Regions from separate parts of the Homo sapiens genome. Here region 2 is linked to region 1. The links come from fine-mapping of genetic effects on gene expression. Tissue or cell type: whole blood. Region 1 holds a variant in brackets; the other region holds the start of a gene. All regions are shown on one strand. Distances are from middle to middle.

Region 1 (2,676 bases):
ACTCCAGCCTGGGTGACAGAGCTAGATGCTGTCTCAAAAAATAAATAAGTAAATAAAAGTAAAGCCAAATTAGTTAGTTACATCCCCCAAACCAAGAAGGATAAAATCCCAAACACCCGAGAGGAGGCTAATGCATGACGATCGCCGGCCTAAGAGGATGTCCCCGTGGGGCTGCTTAGAAAGAACTTGAGCACCCAGATGGACCAGGGCAAGCCGCTTCTCATTCTTAGCCAGAGCTGACAGCAGGGCCCACATCGCCCCTGGCAGTGTGGCTTCATCCGAAGGGCCTTGAATTCCCAGGACATGAAACTCGCCCAGATCCAGATGTAAGTACAAAAGTGGGTCCCACAGTCAGTGGAGAGGCACGCTCCCTGGGCTCTCCCAGGCTCTGAGGGTCGGGGCTGCAGCTCTTCCTTCTCCTCCAAGGAGCAAAGCCAGGCAGCTCCTCAGGGCCCATCCCCCCAAAACATACCAGAGTCTACAGCTCAACTCACTGAAATGGGGAGGAAGCAAAACCCTGGAGGGAGGATCCCAGGGATTTGAAGCAGTTAAACAGAAGCACAGGCTTTGGCACCAGGGGGCCTGGTTCACCATTTTCTGGCTGTGTGACCTGGGGCAAGTGAATTCACCTTTCTGTGCCTCAATTTCTTCTGGAAAAATAGGAATTATAGTACCTACCTCATAGGGTAGTTGTGAAAATCCAATTAGTTAATACACTGTGAAGGGCTTAAAGTAGTACCAATAAATAGCAGTGGCTGTCATCATGATTACCATTATCTTTACCATTAGTATTGTCAAAGCTGCCCAGGGAAGCAGGAGAGTTGGGTGGCATCTTTGCGTGCCAGTGACTGCCTATGTAGCGTTGGACAAATCACTTTCCTCACCCTTCCCTGGGACTCAGACTCTGTGAATTGAACAGTTTGGATGAATTTGTGCTGCTCTTCGCCAGGAGGAAGCATCAGAATTGCCTGCAGGGCTTTTGCAAATGTAGACTTCCATGTTCCGTCTCCAGAAATTCTGGTTCATTGGGTCTGGAGCTGGCCCAGGGATCTGCATTAAAAATAGCATCTCTGTTGATGGTTCTGATGCACAACCCAGGTTGGGAGCCACAGTTAACCGGGTTAGGATCCTGAAGTGATTGGTCCCCTTCCCTCACTCCCATTAGCTCAGGTGGTGTTTTAGCAAAGGGGAAGCTCCTGCCCTCTCTGTGGGTGCTGAGGCTGTTGCCTGGGTGGGGGTCCCACTTTACTAGGTGTGGCAGGTCACCAGTTCCACAGGAAGCAGTGGTGGCTGGAGAACAGCCCTGAGGCGTGAGTGGAGCCGGCACATCTAGGAGTTTTCATTCAGCTGATGTTTGGTGAAAGTGGGATCT[G/A]TAGGCTGGGCGCGGTGGCTCACACCTGTAATCCCAGCATTTTGGGAGGCCAAGGCAGGCAGATCACCTGAGGTCGGGAGTTCGAGACCAGCCTGACCAACATGGAGAAACCCCATCTCTACTAAAAATACAAAATTAGCCAGGTGTGGTGGTGCATGTCCGTAATCCCAGCTACTCAGGAGGCTGAGGCAAGAGAATTGCTTGAACTTAGGAAGTGGAGGTTGCAGTGAGCCGAGATCGTGCCATTGCACTCCAGCCTGGGCAACAAGAGCGAAACTCTGTCTAAAAAAAAAGAAATGAAAGTGGGATCTGCAGATGGGAGGAGAACAACTGTGAAAATGAGGTGTCCTCTGGCCATGTGATGCCTGGGGGCTAATCCTACCTTCAAGGTATCACAGGAGATTCTCCTCACTGCTTCTGAAGTGTGATTGAAAGGGGCTGAGGTGTGGATGGATGTCAGCCCTGCTTTCCTTCATGGCCACCCAGAAGCTTTTGGATGCTTTGGGTAGGACAAACCTCCAAGGAGCTTTTGGGTCACAAAGGGCCCACCTTCTTGGGCACTGGCGGGATCTGTCTGCCCAGTTCCTGGTTGCCCAAGCCCATCCCATCATCCAGCCTGCCCACAGACGCCCCTGCCACATGCTTCTGGCTGCCTGTCCCTTCATCCCGGCTCCTGTCTCTCCTCGTCTCCCTGATCAATAGCAACCAGCCAGGAAAGCAGTCCCGCAGTGTTTCAGGCCCACTCCTTTAATCTCTCCCGAGGCTGAGAACAGCCTCTTTCTAGCCACCCAGCCCCTTTATTAAACTTCCTTCCTGCCCCCAGTCCTGCTGCTGCCTTTGTGAGGTAAGTTGGACTTGTGTTTCTGTCTTTGGAGAACAGCTCTGCAATAGAAATGGCTTCCTGAAGGCAGGAGCTGCCTCTGAGCTGCCTCCAAGCCAGCCTGGGGCCTGCAGTACAGATGCTGGGAATGGGCGGCCGACAGAACCAAGCCATATCCTATCCTTAGACCCAATCCCAGACAGCAGGACCATGTGGCTCCCAATGTGGAGATAAGAGGGAAGCAGTAGCGACATCTGGGCATCACTTGGCAGCGTGGCTTTGGCTGCTCAGCACGTGCTTGCTAGAGAATCCCTGATGGCTGTTATGGCTTACACATTTAACCACTTCCCTTTGGTACATGTGTAGAGGTGCTGGGTAAGCATCTTGTCAACTTTAACACAGCTGACAAAGTTATGACACCAAGAATGCTTAGACTTTGCAGTTTTCCCCGAACTCCGGCTGATCCTGTTAAAATGTCTCTCCT
Region 2 (2,676 bases), 97 kb after region 1:
TCAGGCTCTCAGTGGGTCCCTCTAAGGACACTGGGGCCAGAGCACAGGGCAAGGGTTGGGTGGGCCCACAACTCTGGAAGGTCCCTGGGAGTCATTCATCTGACAGACACTGAGGAGTGCCCACGATGTGCCACGCCCTGTGTGGGCTCTGGGAAGGCCTCACCTGGTGCTGCCATGGCTGGCCACCAAAGAAGAACAGGATGGGCAGTGGAGGCAGGACCCCACCCCCAACTCAGTCGACCGGGTCATCCCGTGGGAAGCCTGGGAGGCAGGATGGCAGGAGATTTGGACCCATAGACCTGGGTGCCAGAGGTCAGGCTTCTTCATTTGAAAACCAGGGAAGCAGTCTCTACCTCACAAGGTGGCTTGAGAACAGAGTGAGAGAATGTGTAAATCACCCCACCTGAAGTCCAGCACATGGGCAGAGCTCAGCATCCTTTGGATCCCTCAGGCCTGACAGGTGCCCCTGCGCTGGGGGGGTTGGTGGGGCTCTGCAAAGGCAGGCACTGCTCACCTCTGGGCTCAGAATTCTTGTCTAGAGGCTTCTGCAGCTGCCACCCTCGCCTGAGAAAATGCAGGTAGAGACATCTAGAGCCACCCCATGGTAACTGGGGGCTTTGAAAGAATGGAAGAGAGCCCCAAGGAACCAAGGTCCTGGGGATTGACAGGCATGAAAATATGTCCTCAACACCACCCACCCCTATTTCCAAGGCCCTCCTCCAAGCATGCCGCATGCTGTTCTCCAGAAAAGCCAGGGCCTCTGGTAGCTCCAGCTGCTGAGGGGCTGGAGCCTCGCCTTCCCCTCACCAGACCAGAGCCCGGAGGGTGGGGGTTGGGGGGCTCTTTTAACTCCTTGGTGGAGATGAGGAAATTTGGGCCCAGGGAAGTGCAGGTTCAGAGCTGCACCTGCTGTGCCTGGAACAAGGCCAATCCCCATAACCCATGCATCTGCGGAGGTGGCCCCCCAACTGCACATGAGGGGAACAGGGGCTGGGCTTTCTTTTTAATTTGTCTTGCTCTAGATGACAGAGGAACTTTTAGAAAACTGGTGGGATAAGGATGGACGGATGCCCCTCAGCAGTCTCTGGCCTCGTGCCCGGCTGCCAGCAGAGGAGGACACGAGGCCTCAGAGGCCCCCGACGCCCCTTCTCCAGGAAAGCACAGGGTGTGTGGCTTCTCCCCAGCCCCTTCTTTGTCCCAGTCCCCAGTCTGGAATCGCTCTCTGGGCTGGGCCAGGCAAGTGGGCCGCAGAGGCCTGGCTTAGCTTTGGGAACGGAAGCACGGGAAGGGGCGCGGAGAGGCAGGAAGCGGCCTGGGGAGGCTGGGGTGGCCGGGACTACGGACCCGACCGCATAGACGCGATCAGCCCCTCTTGGCGTTCCGGTGTAGCTGACCCCGCCCCGGGCTCTGGCCGGGCTGCGAAGCCGGGAACCAGCGACCCCCCGCCCAGCCCCTGCGGCCGCCCCGCCCCTCCCCGCCCCGGCCGCCCCGCCCCCGGCCCCGCCCCGCTCTTTCGCTTCCCGGGCCGCCGGCAGCCGCCGCCAGCCGCAGCCATGGGCCGGGCCCGGCCGGGCCAACGCGGGCCGCCCAGCCCCGGCCCCGCCGCGCAGCCTCCCGCGCCACCGCGCCGCCGCGCCCGTTCCCTGGCGCTGCTCGGAGCCCTGCTGGCCGCCGCCGCTGCCGCCGCCGTCCGGGTCTGCGCCCGCCACGCCGAGGCCCAGGCGGCCGCGCGGCAGGTCCGGGCCCGAGCTGGCTGGGGCGGGAGCGCGGGAGCGGGGACTGAAGGACCCAGCCTCGGCAGCAGGGGGGACATGGGCATGGACGAGTCGGGGGAGGCGGAGGGCGGAGGGGGACTGGACGGGAGGGAGCACGGGAAGGAGGGGACACGGGAGGCGGGTGGGGGGTGCCTGGGGCCGGGCTGATGGGGGGAAGGCGAACGGAGGCCAGTGTGGGGCTGGGACAGACTGGAGGGGTCTCTATCCAGAGGGGTGACCTGGACACAGTGAAGCTGGTTCCCGCAGAGTCTTAAAGGGTTACTGGGGAGCCCTGGGACAGTGAGGAGGGGACACAGGAGAGGACAGAAGGTGCAGGAGGAACAGGGCCAAGCAGCCAGGGCCAGGCGGAAGGCGGAGTGGGGACAAACTGGGAGGGGGCAGTCGGACCAGACAGTGGATGAGCAGGGACCAGGAGGGACTGGAGGCTCTGGGGCAGTTCAGAGGCAACATTTGCACAGATGGACCGGGAGGCACTGGGAGAGCTCAGGAAGATGGTGGGAGAAGGGGCTCCATGCGGAAGCAACTGCCTGTTGGGGACCAGGAGACCAGGCCGCCAAATGGTGCCCAGCCCAGTCTCTCCTCCCAAGCAGGAACTGGCGCTGAAGACCCTGGGGACAGATGGCCTTTTTCTCTTTTCCTCCTTGGACACTGACGGGGATATGTACATCAGCCCTGAGGAGTTCAAACCCATTGCTGAGAAGCTAACAGGTACCAGGAGAGACTGGCGGCTGGGGAGGAGGGCGCCTTGGCCAACGGTGTCTTCACTGAGCAGGAGCGGCCGTCTGGAGTGGAGGGAAGCTCGTGGGATCTCAGAGGCCCTGGACTCCTCCCAGCTCTGACACTTTGTAGCTGGTGGCTTGGGCGAGCTGCTCCAGCAACCCCTGAGCCTGTTTTTCTCAGA

What was found. PIP is the estimated chance that this variant, and not a neighbour inherited with it, causes the effect.
Region 2: SELENON starts here. The variant in region 1 is fine-mapped to the expression of SELENON in whole blood (INTERVAL, PIP 0.96).

What each region holds. Positions count from the first base shown.
Region 1 is chr1:25,702,025-25,704,700 of GRCh38, forward strand. The region is part of intron 2 of MAN1C1 (mannosidase alpha class 1C member 1); the gene reads left to right. Among named protein-coding and RNA genes, the nearest start is that of MAN1C1, 87 kb to the left of the region's middle. RefSeq lists enhancers at 1,495-1,995, 1,996-2,496. The variant G/A (reference allele first, on the strand shown) is at 1,373.
Region 2 is chr1:25,798,678-25,801,353 of GRCh38, forward strand. It overlaps SELENON (selenoprotein N), which reads left to right and starts at 1,516. Exons shown (of 12, transcript NM_206926.2): 1 at 1,516-1,736; 2 at 2,366-2,483. The coding sequence starts at 1,554. RefSeq lists an enhancer at 710-1,431 and a silencer at 1,241-1,380.